Linked DNA regions of Homo sapiens: regions 1, 2 and 4 are each linked to region 3. The links come from fine-mapping of genetic effects on gene expression. A gene starts in region 3. Each other region holds a variant in brackets. All regions are shown on one strand. Distances are between the middles of the regions. Region 1 has its middle 88 kb from the start of ERCC6L2. Region 2 overlaps ERCC6L2 (ERCC excision repair 6 like 2). Region 3 holds the start of ERCC6L2-AS1 (ERCC6L2 antisense RNA 1). Region 4 overlaps ERCC6L2 (ERCC excision repair 6 like 2).

Region 1 (8,109 bases), 88 kb before region 3:
CTGGTCAGTGAGACTTAAGGGGAGGGGGGCTTTGGGAGTTTGGGGAAATACAGAGAGAAACGCAGGGAGAGCTGCCCCAGAGTCTGCTGCCTTTGCGTGAGATAGGGTGAGGGAACAGGACACCTGGAGCGGTTGGAGCGGTGGCCACCCACCTGTGACGGGGAGGTGGGGGCGCTGAGAACAGAGACGGGAGGCTGTCCGAGTGGCCCTGACACTGCAGAGCCCAGAGCTGAGCTCACGCCTCCGCCTCTGGGCTTCCTGTTACCCACAGCGCAGGTCCCAGGAATTGAGCCACCGGTGGTTGGGGATGGCACGCAGCCTGTGGGAGGCGGCCTTTCCTTCCCAGTTTCAGCCTCTTGATCAGAGTCCATATTTACAGAACTCCTCTCACCCTGGCTCCCCAGTAGCGTGTGTTCCGTGGAGCACAGTTTGGGAAAGGCTGGTGGGAAGGGGACGGGAGAGAGGCAGGACAGTGGGCTCCCAGGCCCACTCCCCCGCGAATACAGCAATCGTGCCTTGTTTCATCGTCTGGAAAATGAAGGGCGGGCCCACATCCCCTCTTCCTTCCCAGCCAGCTCTTGGCGTCCAGTATCTGCGCCCAGGACCATGTGCTCCATGCCCCTGGACTTGGGTCCCAGCAGCTGCCACCCACCTGCCCTGCTTGCCACTAAACTAAGTCTCTGCCCTCCCAAGGTTTAAAGAAGAGGACAGCAGCACTGACTGAACATCTTCTTAGGGGTCAACTAGGATTATACACACGCATTTAAAGCTCGCTTTGCAGTCGTCCCCACCCTTTCCCGCCCTTCCTTATTGGGGGCCACGAGGGTCCTGGAAGCTGGGGGCACCCAGCGGGGGGCACTGTCACCGCACTGGCCTGGGGGAAGCGCAGCTGCGCTGCCCACGCGGGGTCGTGGGTGGAGGGGTTGGGAGGCGGTCATGCCACCCCCGCCTCTCCCGCGGCCGGAGGGCACCGGTTCAGCTGGCTCCCGCCGGTTAGGAGGCCTGTGTGAAAACCTCATTATGCAGCAGCATAACTCGATAGCACCCCCGGGTTCAGGCTTCCCTGGCCACGACGAGCCCTGCCGCCCCAGGGTCCACGTGGCCGAGCGGGGACGGGGAGGCCCCCTCCTCCAGCGGGGTCCTTCAACAGCTCCAGCATCGCCACTCTCGGGAGCTCCGGACTTAAGCGGGGCTTCATATATTAGCGGCGTGCCCAGCAGTCCCACGAGGTTGAGACTGTGTCTCCGGGTTTCCTGCAAACAGATCCTCTTCCTCCTCACAGCAACCCTGTTCCCCTTCAGAAAGGAACGACAACAAAATGATACCGGGTTTTCTTTTTGGAAGATGTCCTGACCTGTGTGTATGAGCGGAGGGTGAGAGAACAGGGATGCAAGAATCATGAACAGAGACTCATTCCCCTGGCTTTGCTCAGTTATCCTAAAAATCCAAGTAGCCAGTTTTACTATGCTGCTCCTTAGAGATATAGACACTGAGGCTCAAAAAGATGGAGAAACCCGTCCAAGGTCACACACAGCTAGAAGTGACGGAGCTATAAGATTCAAACTTGGCCATCTGACCCCAAAGCCACCCCCTTGACTATCTCAGGAGGCTTCTACCTTGGGGACATGCCCATTTGGCTGGGAAATTCTCCCAGAGCTTGTCTAGGTTTGTGTGTAGCTTTCAGAGTTATGGAAGGGCCAGGAGATGTCTAAAGATTTTCAGATTAATATGCTCAAGAACCTGACCATGTGGGTTGTAGAAGGACTGCAGATTTCAATAGAGAGGGTAGAATCTGACTCCCTTGGAGTGAGGTGTTCCTGCAAAGGCATCTTTGGGCAAGGTGGCTTCCCATGCTGTGACACAGCAGCCTCATGCGGCCTCCAGCCTGGCGGTTTTGGGCAGTAAACAGATGACCTCATTGGCTGAGGCCATCCATCTGGGCTTCTCAAGAACTCTGGTATAATTTTAAAAGGTGGCTGGGCAAAGACAAGAGTGAGAGAGGACTCCCTTTAGGGATCCTGTGTTGACAGCCCTTTATGACCTCCAAGGTGGGAACCGGCTTCTGCAGAAATTGCATTTTTAATATTTAAGTAAGAATCGGCATGCTTTGGGGAGCCTAACTGAATTTCCAATGGATCAGCAGAAAAGTCAACAAAAGGTTGTGTTTCTTGTTCTAATCCCTTCACTTATTCCACCAAATGGTTGTCAGATGTTCAACCACACCGAGAGCTAAGGAAAGCCCACGCCAGGAAGGCTAAACTTTGGCTGCTGCAAGGTGTCTTAAAAACAGTGGTGTTACTTAGGGTTCTGGAACCAGTTGAAAGCCTGGAAGGAGAGCCCGTGTGCTTTATGATGCCTCAGGACAAGGTGGGAGGAAAGGGGAATAAAAGGCTTGCCTGTTGCTGAGCTAAAAGGAGTCAGTATGAAAATGCAGATTGCCTTAAGCACAGCTAAGTGCCACAGGCTTTGCCCTCTGCATTGGAGGAGCGTTGGTATCCTGCAGAATGAGCCTTGGAGCCTCTGCTACACCAGTACTACCTTCTAATAAGAATGAAGGCAAGGATCTTGATTCCTGGCATTCGTCAAATTGCTGTTTGCAAATAGTTTCCATGTATTTCTCAGCTCTGATCACTTGGTAGTGGTTTCACGCAGCATGTGATGAGAAGGCTTCTGAGGCCTTATGCGGGCTCAGAGGAGGAAAGTGTGATGATCAATCAGTGATCCCCGCCATGGGTCTCAATAGGGGAAAGAGGCAGCAGGTAGGCCAGATATGTGTCACCCCCTGTGGAATAGAACTGCGATGACCAGTAAGGGGTTTAGAGTGACATCGCTTGAGACTTCCGTAGGCCTTATATTGTGGAGCTTAAATTTACATATGCTATTTCAGCGGGGCAGAAAAAGGTATCGCCTCTTTATTTTCTAAAGGTATCTAATCTTCCCTGCAAACCTCACCTTGCTGGGTGGCTGGAAAGGATGAGTTTCAGGAAGAGGAGGGAGGTGGTTGGGAACTCCTTTAATTTGCCAGCTTTCGGAGTTTAGGTTACTTCGTGTTTAAACAGTCTTCCAGGGAGGGGAGTGGGGAGGGCAACCCAGTCTTTCATGTTTCCTCTTCCTCAGCTTGCTGTTCCCAAGAGGGCACCTGGGTCTGTGGAAATGGGGAAGGGGTGGCGGTGACCTTGTGACCGAGGGCAGAAGCCTCAGGCTGGGAGGTGCCCTGGGATTCTGGTTGCTGCCATCTGCTTTGGGTAGTGTCATCTGGCCCCTAAGCTCCTCCGCTCCCGGGCCTGGTGTTCCTCCAGGTAACCTGTGGTTTGTTCTCCTGGTTTGTGGCTGTTCTCCTCCTTGACTTGGCCTCATGTCATTTCTCCCCGATGCCCCAGGCCCTTCTGAACCTCAGTAGTGTCTTCCATCGGGCCCCTGGCCAGGATGCGTGGCTTGCCATCCCCAAGACAGGGTTGCCGGCAGTTAGGATTTTGGAGTTTCAAGTAACAATACAAAACTTCAACTCATACTGTATGAAGCAATGGGAAGATGTATTATCTTACATCATGAGAAGTCTAGAGGCAGACTGGCCTCCAGGAACACTGTGGTCACCAATAATAGGGTCTTTCTTCCCCCTCCACTCTCTTTATCCTGAAGCTGCTCTGTGCCCTAAACCCTGCCACAAAATGATTTTCAGTGGAAAACAGTGTGGTTTACTTTCCTGTTAACAGCCCTCAGAAGAGAACCAAAACCTCTCCTCAAGCAAAGATGGTTAAGTTCCACACCTTCATTGTGACTGGCTTTCTTTTCTTGTCAGGACAGAGCTCTGACGTTGCATGTTTTACTTCCTTAGGGTGCGGAGGAGTGGTCTTCTCTGCTCTCAGTCCGTCAGGCTTGCCCCCACTGCTGAAGCCATGAGTCCACTGGTTTATCATCTCCCCAATATTATTATGCCTCATCTGTAAACTGAAGATGATAGAGTATCTAATACATGGTATTGTTACAGGCTAAGCTGAGATAATTTATGTAACATCACTTTCTATAGCTTCCGACACACAAAAATGATAATAAATGTTAGCGTTGTTTTTCAGTTCTCATTCAGTTCTCATAGGAAA[T/C]GTTAACTCTTTTCCTTTGGCAAAAATAAACATCAACATTCTGAAACTGTTTTCAGAAAGATGATGTTAGGACAGGAAGGTGTTTTTTGTTTTTTGTTTTTTTTGAGATGGAGTCTTGCTCTGTGGCCCGGCTGTAGTGCAGTGGCGGGATCTGGGCTCACTATCAACTCTGCCTCCTGGGTTCAAATGATTCTCCCTCCTCAGCAGACAGAGTAGCTGGGATTACAGGCGCCCGCCACCACACCCAGCTAATTTTTGTATTTTTAGTAGAGACAGGGTTTTATCATGTTGGCCAGGCTGGTCTTGAACTCCTGACCTCGTGATCTGCCCTCCTCAGCCTCCCAAAGAGCTCACGCGGTGGCTCACGCCCAGACTAGGACAGGAAGTCTTGTCGGCTTAGTTCATTGCTAGCACCTAAAAGTAAGAGCTGGCACCCAATTAGTGCCTCACTTAACGTAAGGCATCTTCTAGAGTAGAACCAGTCTTTCAATTGTAGAGAATGCTTCAAGTAAAAATGTTAAGTCCTGCAGATATATCACTTCTGGAATGTCTTGGGTGTTGACACTCAATCAGAACTCTACGACATTCCTCAACCCTCCCGTGGACATTCGATGCCTTTAGATCCCGGCTCCTCCCCTTGCTCTTGGCAAAGGATGGCCGAAGTCCTGGGGAGAGTCGAGCTGGCTATGACACACTTAAAAGATGTAAAGTGAAGACAGGTTTCAGATCTTTGTGGTGTTAGTGACACCAGGGAATCCTCCTGACAAGGGCCTAGATCTTTAGATCACAAAATACTCATGAACAGAATATTGTTTATATAATTCCTGGAGAAGTGATTCTAATAGAGAACCAAAAGGGGTTAAAAAAAAAATCACGGGACCAACTGAAGACAGTTTTTGGCTTTCAGTGTGCGTGGAGTAAATACAGCATGCCCTGTCTGAGATTCCAGCACCAGATCTTCATTCAGTGGGTAGAGTTCTGCCAAGCTTCAACTGCTGCCATGAGTTAGCTAGAGCCAAAAAGGACTGAAAAAAAAGACTTTTCATAGAGAGATAGGTGGACAGTTACGCTCTGGCTGGCATGCCCACTTTGCCTCTGCTGTTGAACAAAAGGTCCCCATGCAAGGTCAATGCGTAATGAGCCACAGTTCAGCTGGAAATACATTTTCAATGGCTTCCATCCCTTTACAGAACAAAGGGGAAAGCCCAATTCAGGTCAGCACTTTATAGCATCCTCATTTGATGAGAAAGAACATTTTTTTCACTGGCTGCTGGCACAGTCTCCCTGCTCGTGGGAAGAAGCATCTTTGATCCACTTGGCACAGGTGGTGAGGTTGAGTCCTGTCACTGTCCGTGCAGAGCTCAGCCGGCATCTCTGCTTAGAGATATACTGCATATTATCATATGCAGTGCAGGCAAATAGACCTTCATTTCTCTCTGGCCCCTTCTCTCCTTTTTCCTCTACTCTTTTGGAAGTACTTGAAAACCTATACCTTTCAGAACGAGGAAGAATCTACATTTTTAAATTAACAATAATATCTTTTATTTGGCCTGATTTTATTTTACTTTATTTTTTATATTTAACTTGCACAACTTGATGTTTTGATATACACATACATTGTGGGAAATCACAATCAAGCTAATTAATATATCTATCACCTCACATTGTTACCATTTTTTTCTTTTTTTTGTGGTGAGAACACAAGATCTACCCTCTTGGCAAATTTCAAGTATACAATACCGTATTGTTATTATATTCACATTGCTGTACATTAGACCTTCAGAAGTTATTGACCTTGCATCACTGAAACTTTGTTTTGTATCCTTTGACGAGCATCTCCCATTTCTCCCTCCTCCAGCCCCTGGCAACCACCATTCTATTCTGTTTCCATGAGCTCCACTTTTCTGGATTCCACAAGTAAGTGAGATCATGCAGAATTTGTCTTTCTATATCTGGCTTATTTCACTTAGCTCCGTGTCCTCTGATTCATCCATATTGTCACAGTCTCGCTCAGTTGCCCAGGCTGGAGTGCAGTGGCACGATCTCTGCTCACTGCAACCTCCGCCTCCTGGGTTCAAGCGATTCTCCTGCCTCAGCCTCCCAGTAGCTGGGATTACAGGCGCCCACCACCATGCCCAGCAAATTTTTTTTTTTTTGAATTTTTAGTAGAGATAGGGTTTCACCATGCTGGCCAGACTGGCCTCGAACCCCTGACCTTAAATGATTCGCCCACCTCGGCCTCCCAAAGTGCTGGGATTACAGGCGTGAGCCACCCGGCCCAGCCAGGATTTCCTTCTTTTTAAAGGCTGAATAATATTCTGTTGTGTATGTATCACATTTTCTTTATACATTCATCCAAATTGTTGGACACAAAAGTCGATTTCATATCTTGGCTATGGTGAATAATGCTGCCATGAAGATGGGAGTGGAGGTACCTCTTTGAAATACTGATCTCATTTCCTTTGGATAAATAAAAGAAGTAGGATTGCTGGATTAAAATGTGATCTAATTTTCAATTTTGTGGGAAAATTCCATACCTTTTGCCATAATGGCTGTACCCATTTGCATTCCTTATGTATAAGGGTTTCCTTTTCTCCACATCCTCACCAGCACTTCTTATCTTTTGCCTTTTTGGTAATCTAACAGGTGTGAGGTGGATATCTTATTGTGATTTTGATTTGCAAGAGGGAGAATATTTTTGATTGTGAAACACTCTGATTTTGTGCTATGCAATATGGTAGTCACTAGTCAGTCATGTTGTAACTATTTAAATTTGAATTAATTAAAATGAAAAAAAAACCCAGCCAGATCCTCAGATGCAGTAGCCACATTTCAAGTGTTCAGTAGCCACGTGTGCTACCATACTGGACAGTCCAGATTATAGAACATTCCCATCAGCACAGAAAGTTCTACTGAACAGCACTGCTGCAGATCCTTGCTATTTATTTATTTATCTATTTACTTTTGAGATGGAATTTGCTCTGTCACCCAGGCTGGAATGCAGTAGCATGATCATAGCTCACCGTAGCCTCGAACTCTTGGGCTCAAGCAATCCTCCCATCTCACCCTCCCAAGTGGCTGGAACTACAGGTGCACACCACCATGCCTGGCTAACTTTTTATTTTTTTGTAGAGATGGGGTCTCACCATGTTTCTCAGGATGGTCTTGAACTCCTTGCCTCAAGCAATCCTTCAACCTCAGCCTTCCAAGTAGCTGAAACTACAGGTTCATGCCAGCATTCTCGGCTTTCAATTTTTTTGTAGAGATGGGGTATCACTATATGATTTCCAGGCTGGTCTTGAACTCCTAGCCTCAAGCAATTCTCCTGTCTCAGCCTCCCAAAGTGCTGAGACTATAGTCATGACTGGCCGCACCTGCCTAGATTCTTAAAGTTTGGTCTATGGTCCAACAGCATCAGCTTCAATGGTCATGTTTTAATTTAAAACATAAGTTGTTAAAATAAATGTCAATACAAGATTCCTTCCTTATTACTTACCTTCAAAGAAAGTAAGACCTTAACTTTATAATATCTTTTCAGTGCATAGAATTAAAATAAAAATTTTCATCTCAGACTTGGAAATATTTATTTTTAATTCCTTTTTGGTAAATAAATTATGCCATATTCTTAAAAATGGAATATCTGTACTCATTAAAATGATATTGTAGAAGATTGTTTATGGCATGGCAGAATTCCATAATGTATTTATTTCTATTTGTATTGTTTAATTTCTTCACAGCTTTATTCTGCCTGACACAATATATTGCTGAGGGGGAAAACTCCAAATTACGAGAGCAAATACAGTACTATTACACGCCCAGAAGCACACACACAATCCCAGGAAAAGAAGGGATGTTTATTCAGATGTTAACCAAGGTTAATCCTGCAGACTGTTAGCTATGGATAATGTTGATTGCCTCTCCTGTGTCCATCCCCCCTACTTTCCTTTAGAGTAACTTGTCACTTTGGGCTCAATATCTCCCCAAGCCCTGTTTACTCGTGTGTCTCGGGCAG
Region 2 (8,109 bases), 74 kb after region 3:
GCCAGTCCCTCCGTTCAGGGTCCCTGACTTCCCGCAACAGGTGTAAAACTTCCAAAAGAAATAAGAGTACCAAGAAAATGTAATTATTTTAGTACATGATAGGAAATATATAGTTGTGTTGGGAAGATGGAGGAAACTCAGAAAGCATGACCAATGAAGTGTCAGAACTAAATCCAAACATAAATATGAATATGTTGAAACTTTTTTTAGAAAGAAGGAGAAAAGTGGGGCTGGCAGAAAGGAAAAATTAGACTCAGGTTTATGCTTATTATGAAACATATATGTAAATAAAAAAGACACAGGAAGTTGAAAATAAGATAAAAAAATCAAATCAGGGAGATGGTAACAAAAATTAAGAATGGATGGCAATGCTAATATCAAATTATTAATAGAATTCAAGACAAAAGGCATTAAGCAAAACAAAGAGGGCCACAGTCCACTAGGAAGTTGTAATAGTCACTACATAACAAAGCCAAAACTCTTATATATGATGAGAAACAGACAAATCCACAACTATAATGGGAAACTCCATATTCCTCTCTTAAAAAATAATAAATTGGCCGGGTGCAGTGGCTCACACCTGTAATCCCAGCACTTTGGGAGGCCAACGTGGGCGGATCACGAGGTCAGGTGATCGAGACCATCCTGGCTAACACGGTGAAACCCCGTCTCTAGTAAAAATATCAAAAATTAGCCAAGCGTGATGGCAGGCGCTTGTAGTCCCAGCTACTTGGGAGGCTGAGGCAGGAGAATGGCGTGAACCTGGGAGGCGGAACTTGCAGTGAGCTGAGATTGGGCCACTGCATTCCAGCCTGGGTGACAGAGCGAGACTCCATCTCAAAAAAATAAAATTAAATAATAATAATAAATCCACTAGGCTAAATAAATATATAAATTACTTGAATAAAAGTTATCTACCATAATTTAATAATTGTGTATACAGATACATCTCATTTTATTGCACTTCACTTTATTGTGCTTCACAGATAATTGCCTTGTTTACAAATTGAAGGTTTGTAGAGATGTTGAGTCAAGCAAGTCTTCCAGCACCATTTTTCCGTGGCATATGCTCACTTGTGTCTCTGTGAGAATGTAGTTCTCACATTATTTCAGATTTTCATTATCACATCTGTGATGGTGATCTGTGATCACTGATCTTTGAAGTTACTATTGTATTTGTTTCAGGACACCATGAACCATGCCCCTATAAAAAGATGAACTTAATTGGTAGATGTGTGTGTTCTGACTGCTCTGCTTACTGGCCATTCCCCTGTCTCATTCCCTCCCTTGGGCCTCCCTCTTCCCTGAGACACAGTATTTAAATTAGGCCAATTAGTAACTCTGCAGTGGCCTTTAAGTGGTCAAGTGAAAGGAAGAGTTGCATGTCTCTCACTTTACATCGAAAGCTAAAAATGATTAAGCTTAGTGAGGAGGGCATGTTGAAAGCCAAGATGGGCCAAAAGCTAGCAGTTGGCCAAGTTGTGAATGCAAAGGAAAAGTTCTTGAAGGAAATTAAAAGTGCTACTCCAGTGAACACATGAATGACAAGAGCACCAAACAGCCTTATTGCTGATACGAAGAAAGTTTTAGTGGTCTGGATCAAAGATCAAACCAGCCACAGCATTCCATTAAACCACAGCCTAATCCAGAGCAAGTCTCTAACACACTTCAGTTCTTTGAAGGCAGAGAGACACAAGGAAGTAGCAGAAGAAAAGTTTGAAGCTGCAGGGATTGGTTCATGATGTTTAAGGAAAGCAGCCACCTCCATAACAAAAAAGTGCAAGGTGAAGCAGCAAGTGTTGATGTAGAAAAGCTGCAGCAAGTTATCCAGAAGATCTAGCTAAGATCATTGTTGAAGGTACCTACATTAAACAACAGACTTTCAATGAGAACAAAACAACCTTATATTGGAAGAAGATGTCATTGAGGACTGTAGTCAATAAAGAGGAGAGTTAATACCTGGCTTCAAAAGATAGGCTGACTCTCTTGTTAGAGACTAATGGAGCTGGTGACTTTAAGTTAAAGCCAGTGCTCATTTACCATTCCGAAAATCTTAGGGCCTTTAAAAGTTATGCTAACTCTACTCTGCCTGTGCTTTGTAAAATGGAACAACAAAGCCTGGATAACAGCATATCTCTTTACAGGATGGTTTACTGAATATTTTAATCCCACTGTTGAGACCTACTGCTCAGAAAAAAAAAGATTTCTTTCCAAATATTAACTGCTTACTGACAATGCCCCTAGTCACCCAAGTGTTCTGATGGAGATATACAAGGAGATTAATGTTGTTTATGCAGTAACACAACATCCATTCTGTAGCCCATGGATCAAGTTGTACTTTTGACTTTGAACTCTTATTATTTAAGAAACACATTTTGTAAGGCTATAGCTGTCATATATAGTGATTTCTCTGATGGATCTGGTCAAAGTCTGTTAAAAACCTTCTGGAAAGGATTCACTATTCTAGATACCATTTAAGAACATTTGTGATTCATGAGAAGAGGTCAAAATATCAAACAGGAGTTTGGAATAAGTTGATTCCAACCCTCATGGATGACTTTGAGGAGTTCGACTTTAGTAGAGGAAGTAATTCCAGATGTGGTGGAAATAGAGAACTAGAATTAGAAACAAAGCCTGATGATGTGACTAAATTGTTGCAATCTCATGATAAAACTTTAATGAGGTCAGGCACAGTGGCTCATGCCTGTAATCCCAACATTTTGGGAGGCCAGGGCGGGTAGATCACTTGAGGTCAGGAGTTTGAGACCAGCCTGGCCAACATGGTCAAACCCCATCTCTACTAAAATTACTAAAATTAGCCAGGTGTGGTGGCGTGTGCCTGTGGTCCCAGCTACTCAGGAGGCTGAGAATCGTTTGAACCCGGGAGGTGGAGGCTGCAGTTAGCCAAGATGGCAGCATACCCAGGCAGGATGTATACCCAGAAATGACCTGAGAAGACTTTTAGCCTTCACCCCATGTTGTTCCCAAGGCTCAAGACACACCCTGCTAATTAGTGAAGGTCTTCCTTACCAGTTTGCAAAGACTTGGGGAGTTGGCTGTCTTTCCAAATGGTAGTTTTCAAGAAAAGACCACAAGACATTA[GA/G]AAAAAAAAAAAAAAAAGAAAAGAAAAGAAAGAAAATGAAAATACAGCTCATTCAGAGTAACAAAATAAATCTCTAGAAACTAACTGTCCCTGAAGCAAAACAGGCATTGGAGCTACTAGACAAAGACTTTACAACAAGTGTCTTAAATACTCCAAGAGTGAAAGTAAAACACAGAGAAAGAACTAGTGAGGAAAAGGATATATGAGCAAGATGAGAGTATCAACAAAGAGATAGAAATTAAAAAAAGAAAAAAAGAGAGAGAACCAAACAAATTCTGGACACGAAATTCAATTTTGGAATTGAAAAATTCACTAGAGGAGTTCAACAGCAGACCAAAATAGGGAGAAAAAATCTGCAAACTTGAAGATAGGTTATTTAAAATTATTTAATCTGAGGAGCAAAACAAAAAGGGGAAGTGAACATATAGGACACTATCAAATGGACCCAATATGTACGTTATGGAGGCCCAGAAGAAAGGGAAAAGGACAAAAGGGTAGATTAAGAAATAATGAAAAGCTCTCCAAATTTGAGGGAAAATATGGATATACAAATACAAGAAGATCAACCAAGTCCAGATAGTATAAACCCAGTGAGATCCACACTGTGGCACATTATAATCAAACTGTCCACAAAGAGAGCATCTTGAAAGCAGCAAGAGAAAAGCAACATGTCATGTACAAGGAATTTCCATTAAGATTATCAAGTGGATTTGTCAGTAGAAACTTTGCAATCCAGAAGGCAGTGGGATAATATATTTAATGTATTGGGGGAAAAAAAAACAAACAAACTGTCAACTGAGAAACAAAGAAAAAGTGTTTACCGAGAATTTTATGTTGGGCAAAACTGCCCTTCAAAAATGAGGGTTAAGATATTTGCAGACAGACAAAAGCTTGAGGGAGTTCATTACCACTAGACCAGCCCTGTAAGGAATCCTATCCCTGGTGCAGTGGCTCACGCCTGTAATCCCAGCACTTTGGGAGGCCAAGATGGGTGGATCATGAGGTCAGGAGTTCAAGACCAGTCTGGTCAAGATGGTGAAACCCCGTCTCTACTAAAAATACAAAAATTAGCCAGGCATGGTGGCAGGCGCCTATAATCCCAGCTACTTGGGAGGCTGAGGCAGAGAATTGCTTGAACCTGGGAGACGGAGCTTGCAGTGAGCCGAGATGCCGAGATTGTGCCACTACACTCCAGCCTGGGAGACAGGGTGAGACTCCGTCTCAAAAAAAAAAAAAAAAATCCTAAAGGGAGAACTTCAAGATGAAATGAAAGTACACTAGACAGTAACTCAAAGTCATACAAAAAGATAAAGATCTCCAGTTAAGGTAAGTATCATGGACAAATATAAATACCAGTATCGTAATTTTGGCTTATAACTCTGCTTTTTTATTTTCTACAGGATTTAAAAGACACATGCATAAAATAATTATAAATCTATGTTGACAAGTACATTGATATCAATGTAAAATCAATTGATTTAAGGTTGTTATAACTTTAGGATATTATATGTAATCCCTGTGGTAACCACAACAAAAATATCTAAAGTATATGTAAAAGGAAATGAGAAAGGAATAAAAATATGTCACTAAAAAACATCAATTAAACACAAAGGAAGGCAGTAATGGAGGAATTTAGGGGCAAAATAGTTATAAGACATATAGAAAATAAATAAAGTGGGAAAAATGAGTTCTTCCCTGTTCTTAATTATTTCAAATGTAAATGGATCAAATTCCATAATTAAAAGATGTAGATTGGCAGAACAGATTTAAAAAACAGTGTCCAAATATATGCTATCCATAAGAGACTCACTTTAGGTCCAAGAATATACACAGGTTGAAAATAAAAGCATGGAAAAAGATATTTCATGCAAATAGTAACCAAAAGAGAACAGGAATGGTTGTATTAATGTTAGACAAAATAGACTTCAAGTCGACAACTGTTAGAAGAAAGACATTATCTGATGGTAAAAAGTGGATTCACCAAGATTTAACAATTATATACATAAATTCAACAAACAATAGAGCCCCAAATTGTATGAAGCAAACATTGACAGAATTGAAGGGAGAAATAGCTCTGCAATAATAATGGGAGACTTCAACACCTGACTTTCATAATAGGTAAAACATTCAGACAGAAGATCAATAAGTAAGGAGAGGATTTGAACAGCAATATAGACAAATTGGACCTAACAGATATATAGAATTTTCCTTCCAACGACAGCAGAATACATACTTTTCTTAAGTACACAATGAACACTCTCCAGGATAAATCATGTGTTAGGCCACAAAACAAGTTTTTAATACATTTTAAAAGATTGAAATCATTCATTTTTTTCCAGTCACAGTACAATGAAACTAGAAATCAACAGCGGAAGAAAAATTGAAAAATTCACAAATATGTAGAAGTTAAACAACACACACTTAACAAAAGGGTTGAAGAAGAATTCACAAGGGAAGTTAGAAAATAGCTTGAAACAAATGAAAACACACACCACAACTTACAGGATGCAGCAAAAGTAATGCTAAGAGGGAAATTTATAGCTGTAAATGCTTACATTAAAAAAGAATAAAGGTCTAAATCAACAATTAACTTTCCACCTTAAGGAACTAGGAAAAGGAAAAACCCCCAGAGCTAGCCAGAGGAAGGAAATAACAAATATTAGAACAGAGATAAGTAAAACAAAGAATAGAAAAACGACAGAGGCAATCAATGAAACCAAGAGTTGGTTGTTTGAAAAGATCAAGAAAATGGTGGATAAATCTTTAGCTAGATTGACTAAGAGAAAGAAGACTCAAATAATTAACATCAAAAATGAAAGGGGACATTGCTACTGATTTTACAGAAATAAAAAGGAGTTCAAGAGAGTACTGTGAACATTTGTATACCAACAAATTGAATAGTCTACGTGAAATGGATGAATTGCTAGAAATACACAACCTAGGAAGAATGTCATGAAGACATAGAAACCTGAATATAACTATAACTGTGTAAGGAGATTGAATCAGTAATCAAAAACCTCCCAATAAAGTAAAGCCCAGGACCTTAAGGCTTTGCTGATTAATTCTACCAAGCATTTAAAGAATTTGCACCAATCCAGCCAGGCACGGTGGCTCACACCTGTAATCCCAGCATTTTAGGAGGTCAAGGCAGGCGGATCACGAGTTCAGGAGTTCAAGACCATCCTGGCCAACACACTGAAACCCCGTCTCTACTAAAAATACAAAAATTAGCTGGGCGTGGTGGCGTGTGCCTGTAATCCCAGCTACTCGGGAGGCTGAGGCAGGAGAATAGCTTAAACGAGGGAGTTGGAGGTTGCAGTGAGCCGAGATCAAGCCATTGCACTCCAGCCTGGCAACAGAGTGAGACTCCATCTTAAAAAAAAAAAAAAAAAAAGAATTTGCACCAATCCTTCTCAAATGCTTCCAAAAAACTGAAGAGGAAGAAACACATTCCAATTAATTCTATAAAGCCAGCATTACCCCAATACCAAAATCAAAGACTCTACAAGAAAGAAAACTACAGACCAATAATCTTTATGAATGTTAATGCAAAAATACTCAGTAAAATGCCAGCAAACTGAATTTCAGCAGCATATTGAAAGGATGATACACAGAGTAGGATTTATTCCTGGAATTCAAAAACAGTTCAACATCCCACAAAAATCAGTGTAATATGCCACATTAACGAATGAAGGAAAAAAGACACATAATCATTTCATTGATGCAGAAAAAGCATTTGACAAAATTCAACATCTTTTTAAAGATGACAAAAACAACACATTAAAAATAAAAGGAAACAAGCCAGGCACGTTGGCTCGTGCCTCTTGAGGTCAGGAGTTCAAGGCCTGCCTGACCAACATGGTGAAACCACATCTCTACAAAAAAAAATATAAAAATTAGCCAGCATGGTGGTACATGCCTGTAGTTCCAGCTGCTTGCTTGGGTGGCCAAGGCACGAGAATCACTTAAGCCTGGGAGACGAAGGTTGCAGTTTGCTGAGATTGCAACACTGTGCTCCAGCCTGGGCAACAGAGTGACTCCGTCTCAATAAAAAAAAAAAAGGAAACTACTTCAACATATAAGGTCATTTATGAAAAACCCAGAGCTAACATCGTACTCAGTGGTGTCATGATTGAATTGTTTTTCCTGTAATATCAGCTACGAAGAATGGATACCTGTTTTTGCCAGAAAAGGACAAAGATTGTATGATTTCATGTTGTACCTAGAGTCATCAAATTCACAAAGACAGAAAAGAGAATGGTAGTTGCTAGTAGCTGGGGGACTGGAGAATGGGGAGTTATTGTTTAATGAGTACAGAGTTTCAGTTTGGAAAGTGCCTGTAGCTATATAGGTGTTATAGTTGCATAACAGTGTGGATATACCTAATGCCACTTAACTGTACACTTAAAAATGCTTAAAATGATTAAATTTTTTGTTTTGTATATTTTGCCACAATAAGAGGAAATCAAGAGAGAAAAATTTGCTATTTAGAAACAACAATGAGGCCGGTTGTGGTGGCTCACGCCTGTAATCCCAGCACTTTGGGAGGCCGAGGCAGGCGGATCATGAGATCAGGAGGTCAAGACCATCCTAGCTAACACGGTGAAACCCTGTCTCTACTAAAAATACAAAAAAATAGCTGGGCGTGGTGGTGGGCACCTGTAGTCCCAGCTACTTGGGAGGCTGAGGCAGGAGAATGGTGTGAACCAGGAGGCGGAGCTTGCAGTGAGCCTAGATTGAGCCATTGCACTCCAGCCTGGGAGACAGAGTGAGACTCTGTCTCAAAAAAAAAAAAAAACAATGAAATTACTGTGGATCAATATTTAAATTCTGGTGCTAATTTCAATTTTTAAATTCATTTATTAAAAAAGAAAGGCCAAAAGTAAAAGAATAATTTAGAAAACTAGAAAAGGAACAAAGTAAAGAAAATAGAATTATACACATTATTACATTATTAAGATAAAAATAAGAACATAATATAAATTGTAACTAATTCATTGAAAAGA
Region 3 (8,109 bases):
TGCATAATGGTGAGGTTTGCACTTCTAGTGTACCTGTCACTCAGAGTGAAAGTTGTTCCCAACAGATAATTTTTCAACCCTCACCTCTCTCCCATCCTACCCACTTTTGGAGTCCTCTGTGTCTATTATTTCCTTCTGCATGTCCATATGTATCTATTAGTTAGCGCCCACTTTTAAGTGAAAACACGTGGTATTTGATTTTCTGTTTCTGAGTCATTTCACTTAGGATAATGGCCTCCAGCTCCATCCATGTTGCTGCAAAAGACCTGATTTTATTCTTTTTTTTTTTATGGCTGCAATATATTCCATGGTGTTTATATACCACATTTTCTTTATCCAGTCATCTCTTGATAGACACTTAGATCGATTCCATGACGTTGTTATTGTGAACTTTACTGTGGTAACATACAAGTGTGGGTGTCTTTTCAATATAATGATTTATTTTCCTTTGGGTACTCAGTAGTGGGATTCGTGCATCAAATGGTAATTCTACTTTTAGTTCTTTGAGAAATCTCCATACTGTTTTCCATAGAGGTTGTACTAATTTACATTCCCATCAACAGTGTATAAGCATTCGCTTTTATATTTTGAGAGTTTTTATAAACATGTTTCAACCAGTATTTCTTGGTGTTTTGTTGCAGGATTTTTATACTTATCTGACATGAGGTATTAAATGTTCTATTATTTGAGTCTATTTATTGAGTCTATGAAGTAAAAATGGTGTTGGTGAATATTCAAGGTGTAATGATATTCATTATATGGGACCATGATATACTTCTAACACTGACTCTATATATCTTTCACTATACCTCATTCAAGCCTCAAATTTTCCTTTCTTTGGCCGGAGCTTTTTTGTTGTGTTTTGCTTTTTAAACTGTGATAAGAAAGAACATATTATATAAAATGTACCTTCTTAACCATTTTTAAGTGTACGGTTTAATAGTGTTAAGTATGTTCACACTGTTGTGCAACGTTGAGTTTTAAACTTTAAGATTTAGGTTATTTGTGGCAAGGAAGGACAGGTCTATTTTATCTTCTTTCTCTTGCCTTCACTCATCTTTGCTTCCTTATTGGCTGGAACGACGTATGAAGGGAGAAATGCTGCAACCTAAAATCATCTAACTAAAACTCAAAAGACTTAATTTCTTGTGTTGTCTTAGAGTTTCATATCTATTTTTTTCTGGAGCCTTTTTGCTAGATTAACTCACAATTCTGGAGATCTGTCAACCACATACAGATATATATTTGACTTTTGCAGTGTGAAGATAAAGAGAGACTATTTTTTGGCAAATTATTGGTGGGTTTAATCATCCTTCCATGAGCCTGTTTTGAAATGCCTGTGTTATCACCATCTGTGTTATTTTTTTCTCTTTTGTAGTTTTAATTGGCTTAATTTTTGCTAGATCCTCCTTTGCCAAAAGTTTTGTATGTGATTCAGTTCATTCATGTGATTTATCCAACATCACACATATTAACTACAGGAATTCCTTAATATTTTACAAGATATTCAGTTTAACTTTGAAGTGACTGGTCTGACAGCGTTAGATGTTCACAATATCAGCACCTAGACAAGGATGTCAATGCAAAGACAAAAGCTACTGGGGGAAGGAATATTTGAGAATGTCTAACTTTATGAGGCAACTAGTTCACTAGGACATATTTTCATGTCATGATTATTTCTGCTTCAGTATACACTGTAAGTACAGCAGTGAGGTTAAATAATAAACACTCAGAAAATGAGGGCCGGGCGCGGTGGCTCACGCCTGTAATCCCAGCACTTTGGGAGGCCGAGGCGGGCGGATCACGAGGTCAGGAGATCGAGACCATCCCGGCTAAAACGGTGAAACCCCGTCTCTACTAAAAATACAAAAAATTAGCCGGGCGTAGTGGCGGGCGCCTGTAGTCCCAGCTACTTGGGAGGCTGAGGCAGGAGAATGGCGTGAACCCGGGAGGCGGAGCTTGCAGTGAGCCGAGATCCCGCCACTGCACTCCAGCCTGGGCGACAGAGCGAGACTCCGTCTCAAAAAAAAAAAAAAAAAAAAGAAAATGAGGTATCCTCCTCTTTTGTTAGTCACAAGGGTATTCCTTCAACCAGATGATACCTCCCATTTAAATCAAAATTTATTTCTGAATTTGCTTATCACTTCTATTAAGAGGTCTGCTCTGTCAAGAGCTACATCTTAACTCAATGGACCTCTGGAAAAATAAGACAAAATTACACAACTAGTCATTTCAGAGAGGGGAAAAAAATCAAACTTCTTCCCTGGTAGTTGTAGGGGAAAAAAAGAAGCTTGATTAAAATTTCAATTTGCCATTTTGATTTTAGAGACAATGTGAAAAGAGATATAATCCATCAATAACAAGCAGCAGATTTTTCTAGATTTTAAGATTTCCAATATCAGGGTGCATGTCAGAATCAAGAATTACAATTATAATTAGTAGTGTTTTTCGCTGTGTCGCCAGATTAGAGTGCGGTGGCGCAAACTCGGCTCACTGCAACCTCTATAGACCTCCCGGGTTCAAGCGATTCTCCTGCCTCAGCCTCCTGAGTAGCTGGGACTACAGGCATGTGCCACTACGCCCAGCTAATTTTTGTATTTTTATTAGAGACGGGGTTTCACCATATTGGCCAGGATGGTCTTGATCTCTTGACCTCATGATCCGCTCACCTTGGCCTCCCAGAGTGCTGGGATTACAGGCATGAGCCAACCGCGCCCGGCCTATTAGCCAAAATATTAAACTGACATAATGGCTATGTAGAATGCAACTTTCAAGTGGATGCATTCCATTGATAATAATAGTAATAACAACACATATATTCCTTACTATGACCAGCTACTGTTTTAGGAGTTTTACTTAATTATCTAATTTTTTACAATTACCATTTTTAGGTAGTTTACTATTATTAGCTTCACTGTAATGGTGATAGGTGAGTACAATAAAACACGGAGAAGTGATCTGGCCAACAACTCACACATAGATGGCTGAGTTAGATGTTTCACTTAGGCTTAAAGTTATTGCCTGCTGGTAAGCAAACAAGTCATATTTTAAATGAAGCATTTTATGAACACATACTACTAGTTTTTAGTATCTGCCATAGAATTGAGATCTATTTGCAAACAGCCATATTGTTTTCTTAAGACACTACTGTAGGCAGAATAATGATCCCCCAAAGATGTTTATCTCCTAATTTCCGGAATTCGTGAATATATTAGCTTACATGGCAAAAGGATTCTGCTGATGTGATCAAGGGCAGAGACCTGGAAATGGGAAGATGATCCTGGATTACTCAGGTGAGCCCTCAGAATCTTTTCCAGCTGCAATCAGCGGTAGACTTGAGGATGGAAGGTTCAGAGAGATGGCATATCACTGGCTTTGAAGATGGAGGAAGGGACCAAAGCCAAGGAATGTGGACAGAAGCTGGCAAAGGCAAGCTAAGGATTGTCCTGTGGAGTCACCAGAAAGGAGTGCAGCCCGGGTGACACCCAGGTAGCACTTCTGATCTACAGAACCGTGAGATAATAAATGCATTGTCTGTCAGATGATAAATTTGTGCTGTTTCAAGCTACAAAGTTTGTGGTTTTTGGTTATTGTGGCAATAGGGAACGGATACAGGCCCTGTCAGGTATTTCACTCAATCCATGAAATACCTTACAGTATACAAATTTTAACATGCGCGGGAGCCACTTACGGATCCGTCTATCTGTGCTGCCTGGGAGTGTCAAGAGGCCGTGTCCTTCATTCACCTCGCGCGTGGGCGGCGCTGCCCTGAAGATGCTCCCGGGCTCAGTGCAGACGGCTCAGCGTTCTCTCGCGTTCAACGAACCGCCAGAAACGTCAGATGGTACGGAGGAAAACACTTTACACTTTAACAGTATTTTTACGTTTATTTGCAGCAAATGTTGTTGGCTTTGTATTTAAAGTATTTATGACTCACTATAAAGTGTAGGATCCAAGAAAACGCGCTAGTTTCACTTGGCCCCCGTGGCTGTCCCGGGGAGCTCTCCAAGGAAGGACTGGTTCCTGAAGTTCCTGGGGTGCTGCACCACCACGGAAGAACCAAGCTCCACAGAGAAGCCAGAAGCCGCGACCGCGGGGACGCTCTCTGCCAGGCCTCCACCGCCTCAGCGGCCCTTTACAGCCACCGCATTCTCCATGCCCCCAGTTATTTCTAGCTTCGCACAGCGCCCGGCCCACCGAGCGACCTCAAACCTCGCGACACTCGCAACTCCCGAGGCCCTTCCTGCTACTGGCCTCAGAGGGAAGAGACATCGGGAAGATTGCTCCGCCCACAGAAAGGAAGATTTCGTTCTCGCGAGATCCCAATGACAATTCGGGAGCCCGTTCTCGCGGGATTTTCCAAGACCGGGTTGGAATTTGCGGGGGTTAGGAGACGGAAGTCAGAGCCTAGGAAGATTTGGGGGTCGCCTTGCCGGCCTCCTGTCCTCCTCCGGCGGCGGCGGAGCCCGAGAGAACTAGGTGAACACCGCTTTGCCAGCCTCACACAGCGTCCCCTGGCTCTGCCGCCGCTCCGGACGTCGCCCTCCCGTTCTGCTTGGGTCCCCTTAGTCGCTACCTTTGCTGGGATCCCCCTCCTCCATCCTGTGGCTTCGGGTTGCCGAAGAGCGATGCTCGGAGGGCGGCCGGAAGTGGCGTTGGCCGCCATTGGCCTGCCGGCCAGCCACCTTGCTGTCCTCCGCCGCCTTCCGGGTGTTACATGCAGCCGGGCTCGGCCCCTCCCCCTGGCCGGATGGATCCGTCGGCGCCACAGCCCCGCGCGGAAACCTCAGGCAAAGGTACCAGCTCCGCGCTCGCCCCTTACGCAGAGGCCTGTGTACTGCGTCGCGTTGGACCAGTTCTTGCCGGTGCCCTTCGGGTTGGGGTTTTGCCCTGTAGATCCTCTTCAGTGACAGCTGCAGATTGTGAACCCCTCCAGGCCTGGAACCAAATCTCCGATTCAGTGTTGAGAACCTGGACTCGGGAGTCAGCCCCTGGGATCTAGTGCTGCCTCTGACAGTTACTTGCTGAGCAACTTTGGGCAGGCTCCTCATCTGTAAAACTGGGTTCATTACTAGGTTCTTGCGATTATTAAATGACGTGGGGAATACGCAAAGTATTTATGTGACCCCGCGTGTGGCCCATATTAAGCACTCAGTAAATGTTATTTTCATTCTTTATTCTTGTATGCCCCAGTTGTTAGTGAATGGCAGAAGTTTGTTGTAAGTAGATAAATGAAGGTTGAGATATTTAGTTCAGTTGAGTTTTATTGCCTATTGAGTCAGGGCATTATATTCTGCCTTAAATAGGAGGTTTAAAGAAGGTGTGATTATCTACCACAAGTCACCTGGGATGCCTTCTGGCACCCAAATGAGTAGTTTTCATTAATAATTGTGCTGTATAACAAAAGCTACCAGGTATTGAGTGATTTTCCTGAGCCCAGCAATATGCTGATTGTTTACTTGCTTTCCTTTGAGGAAGATATCGATCTCATTAAATAGATGAATTCAGAGCTAAAGTTCAGAGAGGGCAAGTTACAAGCCTGAATTCTGAGGTCTAGGAATTGATGACGCTGTAATTCAGGGACCAAACATATAAATACCTATAGGAGACTGGCAGCTAAAAATAGATGAAGCTGCCGAGTGGATATTGTGACTGGGAGGCTCATTCCTTTTGATAAATCTAGTCACTCTTGGTATTTAGGGAAATTGGTGGAAGGAGCAGAAAGCTCCAGGGCCCCGAGGTGGGAACACCCTTGAGGAATGCTTGAGGAGGCCTTTGGAGTGAAAGAGGGAGAGAGAGACCCTATCACCAGAATGAGTTGAGTTGGTAATTAGTTTAAACCAAAACAAATGATTTCGACTCATTAAATTTTAGGACACTTAACCCATTTCCCTGTTAAATCCAACAGGAAATCTTAACAATTTAAGCAGTTGTTCTGTAGTTTGGATACTGAGAGATTCCATTTCTAACTCAACTGAATTTATTTCGTCCTAGAAATTATCCGAACTCAAACCCAAAATACTCCAATAAGTTGTGTGATTCCCTTAAGGCTTTTTTTTTTTTGCACATGCTGTACACTTATCTGAGATACAGTTCTTAGACCCCTTTCCCTTTTAAATTACATTTCTCAATACTCCCTTCTCATAGCACTCTTCTTCCAATGCAGTTTTTACAGTTATGTATATGTTGGTGTACTTTTTAGTTTTCTCGCAAGATATCAAGGATTTGTGAGATTGATAATTTGTAATAGGCCAGGCGCATGGCTCACACCTGTAATCCCAGTACTTTGGGGAAGCTTAGGCGGGAGGATAGTTTGAGGCCAGCCTGGACAACATAAGCGAGACCCTGTCTCTACTAAAAATAAAAAATTTAGCCAGGCATGGTGGTGCACACCTGTAGTCCCAGCTACTCAGGAGGCTGAGGCGGGAGGATGGCTGAGCTCAGGAGTTGGAGTTTACAGTGAGCTATAATTGTGCCATGACACTCCAGACTGGGCGACAGAGACACTCTTGTCTAAAAAAAAAAAGAAAAAAAAAAGAATGTGTAATAAATTCGCATGTTCACTGAATGTCTGCTGTGTGACTCTGTGTTGGTCCTGGGGATAAAATTTATAACAGTACAAACTTTTCTTGGAAAGGAAATTACTCTCTACTGGAAGGAAAAGACAAAAAACCAGTGGACATGATAATTAAATGTTATGATAAGTGCTACAGAGGCAATAAAATGATGAGATAGAGAATAATGGGTACCCTACGCTAAATAGGTGGACTGGGAGCAGAGAGACTGGTTAGGCATAATTTAGGGAAAGTTGATGGTGGCATGCTTTAAGACAGAGGTCTGCAAACTACTGCCTGTGGGCTAAAACTGGTCTGACACTTTTTTTTGTAAATAAAGTTTTATTGGAACACAACTGTGCCCATTTGTTTATGTATTGTCTGGTTGCTTTTGCATTACAAGGGCAAGAGACTGTATGGCCTACAAAATCTAAAGTAACAAATAGCTAATAACTGACTCTAGAGAAAATGTTTGCCAGCCTTTGCTTTAGAGAGATAGTGGCATGGAGGAAAGTGATTCATTTTTGAAGTAGAACCAGGATATTCTGATGGATTGGATGTAAGGAGTAATATTAAATGAGGTTTAAGGGCTGACTAATGGTTTTCTACCTTGAAAAGTTGGTTAGATGATGATGCCAGTTTTTTGTTTTTTTTTAAATGCCAGCTTTTTTTTTTATTATACTTTAAGTTTTAGGGTACGTGTGCACAATGTGCAGGTTAGTTACATATGTATACATGTGCCATGCTGGTGTGCTGCACCCATTAACTTGTCATTTAGCATTAGGTATATCTCCTAAAGCTATCCCTCCCCCCTTCCCCCCACCCCACAACAGTCCCCAGAGTGTGATGTTCCCCTTCCTGTGTCCATGTGTTCTCATTGTTCAATTCCCACCTATGAGTGAGAATCTGCGGTGTTTGGTTTTTTGTTCTTGCGATAGTTTACTGAGAATGATGATTTCCAGTTTCATCCATGTCCCTACAAAGGACATGAACTCATCATTTTTTATGGCTGCATAGTATTCCATGGTGTATATGTGCCACATTTTCTTAATCCAGTCTATCATTGTTGGACATTTGGGTTGGTTCCAAGTCTGCTATTGTGAATAGTGCCGCAATAAACATACGTGTGCATGTGTCTTTATAGCAGCATGATTTATAGTCCTTTGGGTATATACCCAGTAATGGGATGGCTGGGTCAAATGGTATTTCTAGTTCTAGATCCCTGAGGAATTGCCACACTGACTTCCACAATGGTTGAACTAGTTTACAGTCCCACCAACAGTGTAAAAGTGTTCCTATTTCTCCACATCCTCTCCAGCACCTGTTGTTTCCTGACTTTTTAATGATTGCCATTCTAACTGGTGTGAGATGGTATCTCATTGTGGCTTTGATTTGCATTTCTCTGAGATGATGCCAGTTAATAAGATGCAGGAAGACTATTAGTCACCATCATTTTTGACATTAGTTTTCTTCATTTTATACCCATTGTGTGGTATAATATTTGGTGAATAATTTGTGCTTAAATCACATATGTTGAATAATAGATAATAAAATA
Region 4 (8,109 bases), 32 kb after region 3:
GTCATTTGTTGAGTAAGCCTGCTTTTCCACAGTGATTTGAAGGGCCACTTTGGTGTAAAATTAAACTCATTTCTATTTCTAGACGTATTATTCTGTCCTAATTATTTGTTCATTTCTCTTCCAGTGCTAAACAGTTTTAGTTATTTTAGCTTTATAATGTAATTTATTATTTGGTAGTTACTCCTCAAGTTTTCTCAACTTATGAAAAATAAATTTTCTCAAATTTCTCCTCAAAACCTATTGATATATTAGTTGATGTTGTGTTGAATTTATAGTTAACTTTGCTTGTCATTTCCATTCTTATATTTCTTATTTACTTCTCTTTTTTAATTGCAAGAGTTGATATTTATTGATCTGGTTTGTAACTTTCTGTTTTGATAGAATATCAAGTTTTGGCATAATGCCAAACTTTAATACTTCATATAGTACTTAGAAAATAGAAGGTGTTCAATTGATGAATGAATTAATAATTGAAGCCATACATGTCAGTGCTAAGTTAGGACTAATAATGTATGTTCAGAGGACAGTGACAGTAGAGTTGAAACAAAGGTTTCACATGGGAAGAAGTGTGATATCAAAATGAAAAATAAATTATACCTTTACAGAAAAATTACAGAATGTAAAATTGGAATCTTTGCTAGAAAACTCAAAGTACTAAAAAAAAAGTTTTCGTATTTATCTCTACAATCTTAACTCTCTCAAAAATACCCAACATAGGTAATTAATTTATTTAATGCCAAAACTTGATATTCTGTCAAAAATTAGGCTGTTTTTATACAAAGGACTTGGAAGAGCCCCTGACTACAGTGGATTCTAAACTGAAATTTCTGTATATGAAATAACTGCAGCATACTGAAGGAGAAAATGATCAGCTATACACACAGTAGGGTGTAAATTAATTATGTTAGGTATTTTTGAGAGAGTTAAGGTTGTGGCGATAAATACAAGGCTTTTTTTAGACCTTTGAGTTTTCTAGCAAAGATTCCAATTTTATGTTCCGTAATTTTTCTGTAAAGGTATAATTTATTTTTCATTTTGATATCACACTTCTTTCCACGTGGAACCTTTGTTTCAACTCTACTGTAATCTCACTGTCCTCTGAACATATATTATTATTCCGAACTTAGCATTGACATGTATGGTTTCATGTATTCATTCATCAATTGAATACCTTCTATTTTCTAGGTACTATATGAAGTACTGAAGTTAAGGTAAATAAAGTTACACATCTCAAGGACGTAGACTTTTTGATTGAAGGTGCTAACAGGATATGTCATGGTAGTTAAGAGTTTTAGAATTAGGCAGACCTGGGTTCAAATACTTACTTTGCTACTTAATAGCAGTATGACCTTGAGTGTGTTGCTTAATATCTCTGTACCTCAGTTTCCTCATCTGTGTTTCTGGGTAAAGTCCCTGAATTAATTTCTGTAAACTACTTCTAAAGGCCTTGGCACACAGTAAGTGCTCAATAATTGTTATGTTATTATTAATACTATTACTACTTCTGCCACAAAAATTGTCACGTTAATCTTTGAGTATCTCATCACAGTCCACACTACATCATTCTTCTATGCCGTGGTTCCTGAGGAATCAGATTTGATAGAAAACTCCTTAATAATTGAGCAAGATTTATTGAAAGATATAAATAATTCAGTATTCTCTAGTTGCATTATTTAACCTAGCTTCTGTTAATTTTAATAATACGTAAGCAAATGAATTTTAATTTTATTTGTGTTAATTTTATATTCAGTTTTATAAAATTGTATTTTAGCTTCAGAATAAGAATTATCACCCTTCCCCCATGTCTACAGCAATACCACTCTGAACACACCACATCTCGTCTGATCTTGGAAGCTAAGCAGGGTCGGACCTGGTTAGTACTTGGATTAGAGGAATAGCTCCCAGAGTTGCTTTGTGTGTAGTGACTTAGCAGTTGGACACTGCTTTCCATTTTATTATTTTGGCATCATTTGCTTAAAAAAGACTTATTAAATGAAATATTATTTATTGGATTGTAGGAAATGCTAAGTTCTTATGTACTTTCCCTGGACTCTGCATAATAGCATAACTCAGTTCTCTGACATCTTTCACTACCAAAATGAATTTTTGAACCATTATTTCACCTTTCATAATTTTGAAGACCAATGTTTGTAAGAAATATCAAGAATTATGTTGCCACCTTAATTTTTAAACATCTTCTGGAATCTTAGGGCTGATGCCAGGACTCTTTAGATTCATTGGCACCTTTGATGAATGGCCTCTCAAGTGGAAAACTACTAAGACTGCTCAGATGCAATTTGCACCTAGCATTGTCATCTCGTAATATACAAAAAAATCAAAGGGAGACACTGTAATTGGACTTAGTAATTGGAGGCCTAATTTCATATTTGAAAGTTAAAAATGGAAATCATAGGATTAACCTTCACCCAAAGGACGGACATACTTGAGATGAATCAAGTATAAGAAGTACTTACATATGCTTGATGATGGCTTGGGAAAAAGGAACTCTCACGTTCAGCATGTTGATTTTCTTTCGTTTTCTTCTTTCTCTTTCCAAAACACAGTCACAAATTTGACTTTTTAGAGTTGACAAATGGCCTAGGTTAAATGTTTCACAGAAAACAGAGCAGAATTTAGAGCAGTATTGTATTATTTCTTGGTTAAACTGAATTTTTTCAGTATGTTTAATTGGTTCATCTCTATCAAGTAGATCAAGTATAAAACTTTAGAAAATAATCGTACTGGTAACCCTATTAAACTTAACAGGATAGGAATAGTGGTAACAGGGAGAAATAAAAACATTAAAAAGTTAAAATGGTTGATGACAGCAGGATTCTGGGTTAGTACAGGAAAGGTACATGAATGTGAGGAATAACCAGAGAGTTACGTTGGTAATCCTCAGAGGGACTGATTTGGTAGGCATTATTAGGGCACAAGTCCCATTTACCTGAGTTTCAAGAGAGAGCAGGAGGAGAGTTAAGCACTGATAACTCTTGATCTTTGCTATAGGGAGAGTAGAGTAATGAGGTAATAGAGATAGATGTTGGGTTAAGGAAAAGAAGTTTTAAAAAATTTTTGTTTTTCGGATTTTTTTAACCCTGGGAAATATTCTAACATGCTTGTCCATAGGTGATGTGGTTCATTAAAATGGAAAAGTTAATCAGGTAGGGGAGATTGGGGGCAGTTTCTGCAGCATTGACTTTAGGTTGGCAAGAAGGAATGGGAGCCACTGTATGAGGGGTTTTTTTGGAGAAGAACATGAGCAGCGTACCCATGGCAACAGGTGGGAGGGCAAAATATATGGAAATGAATATAGATAGGTTATTGATAGGATACTGAGAGAAGTTCATCCAGGAAGTTTTCTTCTGATTGCTTCAATTTTCCAGTGAATTTTCCAGTTCTTTAACTGAGAGTATCTGAAAGAGGGGGAGCGGAAATGGGCTAGGAAAATGCAGAAGGAAAGAGAGCTCCAGGAGACCATATATTTCAAGAACACGTGGCCTGCTTGTGTATGTACATTACCCACTTGGCCTTTGAAGCTATTACTGGGATCCAGATTTTATTCTTTTCTCTCTTTTGGAAAGTTACTTCTCTCTCATTTCTCAGTGCCTTTTTGGTAGGGGGAAATAAAAAACACGTGTTTCTTTGAGCAAGGTTAGGTGTCTGTCTTGTCCTGATAAAAAGCTAATTAAACAGCAAATTATTTTTTGAGAATCTTCAATGTCCAGATATAGCTAATCACTCAGTTGTATTTATTGTTACTAACTAGATGTCAAAATTAAGGAAGAGGACTATTGATATTGATATTGTGGATTTCACTTTGGGATTCTTTTTCAGTTTTTAAAAAACAGCAAAATTTTTTTATTCTTGTTTTAGATGTTCTTAATAGTTGCTCCTCTTTCTGTCCTCTACAACTGGAAGGATGAATTGGACACCTGGGGATATTTCAGAGTCACTGTTTTACATGGAAACAGAAAAGATAATGAATTAATTCGTGTAAAGCAGAGGAAATGTGAAATTGCTCTAACAACTTATGAAACACTACGCTTATGCCTGGATGAACTTAACAGGTAATGGGAATAATAGGAATAGGAATGATTGTATTAATAGTCTACTTACATCCCTTTATATTAAGAGTTTTTTTTTTTTTTTTTTTGAGACAGAGTCTTGCTTTTGTGTTTTTAGTAAAGACGGAGTTTCGCCACGTTGCCCAGGCTGGTCTCGAACTCCTGAGCTCAGGCAATCCACCCACCTCAGCCTTCCAAAGTGCTAGGATTATAGGTGTGAGCCACCGTGCCAAGCCTATATTGTGATTTTTTAAAAAGGAATAATGATGATTCCTTTGCTTGATTTAATTTCATTTTAGAATTATTGAAATATTTAGTTCATAATAACTTACTCTCTGAGAAGGAAAAACCTGCATCAGGTTTTCTAGAACTTCTTATTCTATTTCTTACATTGAATACAGGATACTTCTTCAAACACTGATTGTTAAAGAATGATAAGACTTGTCCTAAATCTCATGTACAGCCTTTTATGCAGACACTGCCTCTGAACTAGGTCAGTAATTTTCATGAATTATTTCAATTATGGGAGTCTGTTGTGAATATAGAGGGGCAAAAACTACACACACACACACACACACACACACACACCCCCACACCCACACACCCACTGTAGCATAGAGTGTGAGGGAGAAGTGGCCAAGAGGTAACACCAGTGAGATAAGCAGGGAAAAGATTATAGAGAGTATTGGAAGGTACTTTGAGGATTTTG[A/G]TCTTTATCCTGAGAGCAATAGAGTGCCCCCTACAGTGTTGTCAGCAGATTACCGATAGGATAAAAATGATCAGATTTGCACTTTGTAAATACCTTAGCTTCTGTGTGTGCAGATAAAGGAGAGCCAAGCTGAATGGAGAAGGACCAATTAAGAGGCTTGTTATGTGCTGAATTGTGTCGCTTCTCCTCAACCCCCATTCCACAATTTAAATGTTCAGGTCTCAACCCCAGCACCTCAGAATGTAACTGTGTTTAGAGACAGGTCTCTTTGATTAAGTTTTAAAGAGGTGATTAAAACCGAGGCTGATTGGGTGGGGCCTGGGTCCAGTATGACTGGTATCCTTATAGGAAGAGAAAGAGACACCAAGGACACACACACACCACAGAGGAAGGGACTTGTGAGGACACAGCAAGAAGGCAGTCATCTGCAAGCCAAGGGGAGAGGCTTCAGGAGAAACCAAATTTGCTGACACCTTGCTCTTGAAATTCGAGCTTCCAGGATTGTGAGGAAATAAATTTTGGTTGTTTTAAGCCATCCAGTGTGTGGTATTTTATTTTGGTAGCCCTAGCAAACCAATACAAGGCTTTTATAGTAATGTGGTCACGGGACCATGGTAGTGAGGTCTGAAGTCTTCATAGTTGTTCCAGCAGTAGGCTGGGCCTTGGTAAAATCATTAGTTTCCATCTGCTTGTAGCCTAGATTTGTCTCTACAGGGATACAATTTATACCTTTTAGGTGAAGATTAAAGCATGGCATTAGAAACAGTTATCTAGTAAGTCTTTAAAATGTTTAGACATTATAGTTATACTCAATTTGAACTACTGCTAATGAAGGAGTTAATGATATTCCCCCAAAGTCAACCGAAGTTTAGAAAATTGGTAATTTTTTTAAGGTGATACTTTCACATCAGCATTAAAATGATTTAGCATAGGATGAAAATGATGAACAATTGATAGTTGTCTCAAATTTTATGAGCACACAAAAAAGAGAGTAAAAAAATCACTAATTAGCCATGTGGCTTTGGGTAAATTAGCCCATCTGGAAAATGACAGAGGATGAATTAAATCAGTCTTTGTGAAAACTAGCCCCTCAAGCCCAGCTGGAGAGTTGTATTAAAATCAACTTTAATGAGAGTTAATTTGTGTAGAATAATTATGCCATTTCAGGAATACAATTTGATGAATCTTGACCAGGGATTGGTAAACTTTTTCTGTAAAGGGCCAGATAGTAAATATTTTAGGCTTTTGGGCCACATATAGTCTCGGTTGCATATTCTTCTTTTTTATTTTTATGACCCTTTAAAATGTAAAAACTATTCTTAGCTTACTGACCATACAAAAGTGGCCACGGGCTGGATTTGGCCATGGGCAGTAGTATACTGACTCCTAGTTTTGACAAATGAGTGCAATCACTATCCCAAACAAGGTAAAAACTATTTTTATCATCCCAGGACTTTTCTTTTACCTCTTTACAGTGGCTTTTCCTCAACCCTCACCTTGGGCAACTACTGATTTTAATTTCTGCCACTTATAGGTGAGTTTAAGCTATTACGGAGCATGTCAATGGTATTATACAGGAAGCACCCTTTTGTGTGTGTCGCATCTTTTGTTCAGCATGTTTTTTGAGATTCATTCATGTTGAGGAGTGTATCAGTGATTGTTCTTTCTTAATGTTGCATTGTATTCCATTTCATCAATATTCACATTTTGTTACCCATTCATTTGAGGATGGATTTTTGGGTTTTTCCAGTTTTGGATTATTATAGATAAAACTTCAAGGCATATTTGTATGTAAGCCTTTTTTGGACATATGTTTTCATTTCTCTTGGAGTAGAATTACTGTATTATATGGTTAACTGTAGGTTTAGCTTTAGAAGAAACTCCCAAACCATTTTCCACAGTGGTTTTACTCCAGCTAGCAATGTGTGAGAGTTCAGTTGCTTCGTATTCTCAGCAACGTTTGGTATTGTCAGTCTTTTTGTTTTAGCTGTTTTAGTAGATGTGTAGTAGTATCTTGTAGTGTAATTTGCATTTTTCTGATCCATGTGCACTTGGAAAACAATGTTCTATAGTTATTGGATGTAGTGTTTATAAATATCAATAAGACTAGATTGGCCAAGATGTTGCTTAGGTGTTTTCTATCTTTGCTGATTTCCTTTTCGATTGGCTTACAGTATCTGAGAGAGGAGAGTTGAAATCTTCAGTTGTAATTGTAGATATGTTTATTTCTCCTTTCACCTCTGTCAGCATTTAATTTAGTATTTTGAAGCTCTTTTATGAGGTGCACATGCATTTATGATTGTTATTTTTTCCTGATGAATTGATCCTTTTATCTTTAAAAAATATACCTATTTATTTCTAATAATATCTCTTATCTTGATGTTTTATCTGATATGAGCATAGCCATATTGTGGTACATTTCAGTAGTTTGTTCCTTTTTATTGCCGATGGTACTATTATATAGCTATCCCATATTTTGTCCATTCACCAGTTGATGGACATTTGAATTGTTTCCAGTTTTTGACTGTATGACTAATGCTGCTGTCTTATGCTGAGTCTTATGCTTACTGCATGTAAATAGCTTTTCCTGTTTTTATTGCAGTATATCTGTTCTTAATATTTGGAGTGAGTCTCCAAATATTGCTTTTTCATCCATTCGGATAATCTTTGCCTCTTATTTGGGTATTTAGACCATTCACTTTGAATATAATTATTGGTAAAATTGGATATGGAGCTACCACTTTTGTCAGGTCTGGGATTTAATTTTATAAATCAAACTTACAAGCTAATAAATTAGCCTGTTACTATTTCATGGATCCTGACAGAAGACTAATCTGAGGCATAGAGAGGTTAAATAATTTTTCTAGGCCTTCACAACTAAGTCAGTGGCAGACATGAGGACTGAACCTTGACCATCTAACGCCAGACCTCAGGTTTTGTTTTGTTTTCTTTTTGAGATAGAGCCTTGCTCTGTTGCCCAGGCTGGAGTGCAGTGGTGCTATCACAGCTCACTGTACCCTCAGTCTCCCACCTCAGCCTTCCAAGTAACTAGGACTACAGGCATGCGCCACCATGCCTGGAAAATGTTTTTGTTTTTTGTAGAGACAAAGTCTCCCTGTGTTGCCCAGGTTGATCTCAAACTTTTGGACTCAAGTGATCCTCCCACCTCGGCCTCCCAAAGTGCTGGGATTATAGGTGGGAGTCACCATGCCTGGCCAAACCTTAGGTTTTTAACCAATATACTGTACCACCCCAAAAGATGTTTTGCAATTAGATAAATGTAATAAATTCTTCTATCATAGCATCAGTCATATTTTAATTATTTCTTACCTG

What was found. PIP is the estimated chance that this variant, and not a neighbour inherited with it, causes the effect.
Region 1: its variant is the best candidate, but not a certain one, in a credible set for the expression of ERCC6L2-AS1 in aorta (GTEx, PIP 0.67).
Region 2: its variant is the best candidate, but not a certain one, in a credible set for the expression of ERCC6L2-AS1 in monocytes (Quach 2016, PIP 0.62).
Region 4: its variant is the best candidate, but not a certain one, in a credible set for the expression of ERCC6L2-AS1 in whole blood (INTERVAL, PIP 0.87).

What each region holds. Positions count from the first base shown.
Region 1 is chr9:95,783,520-95,791,628 of GRCh38, forward strand. No RefSeq gene overlaps it. Among named protein-coding and RNA genes, the nearest start is that of ERCC6L2, 88 kb to the right of the region's middle. The variant T/C (reference allele first, on the strand shown) is at 4,098.
Region 2 is chr9:95,945,689-95,953,797 of GRCh38, forward strand. The region is part of intron 12 of ERCC6L2 (ERCC excision repair 6 like 2); the gene reads left to right. Among named protein-coding and RNA genes, the nearest start is that of LINC00092, 72 kb to the right of the region's middle. The variant GA/G (reference allele first, on the strand shown) is at 3,103.
Region 3 is chr9:95,871,289-95,879,397 of GRCh38, forward strand. ERCC6L2-AS1 (ERCC6L2 antisense RNA 1) reads right to left here and starts at 4,689. Exons shown (of 3, transcript NR_023390.1): 1 at 4,577-4,689. It overlaps ERCC6L2 (ERCC excision repair 6 like 2), which reads left to right and starts at 4,403. Exons shown (of 19, transcript NM_020207.7): 1 at 4,403-4,796. The coding sequence starts at 4,751. RefSeq lists enhancers at 3,574-3,703, 3,934-3,983, 4,024-4,123, 4,258-5,132, 4,264-4,493 and 1 more.
Region 4 is chr9:95,903,202-95,911,310 of GRCh38, forward strand. ERCC6L2 (ERCC excision repair 6 like 2) reads left to right here. Exons shown (of 19, transcript NM_020207.7): 4 at 3,877-4,070. It also overlaps the pseudogene RNA5SP289. Among named protein-coding and RNA genes, the nearest start is that of ERCC6L2-AS1, 31 kb to the left of the region's middle. The variant A/G (reference allele first, on the strand shown) is at 4,777.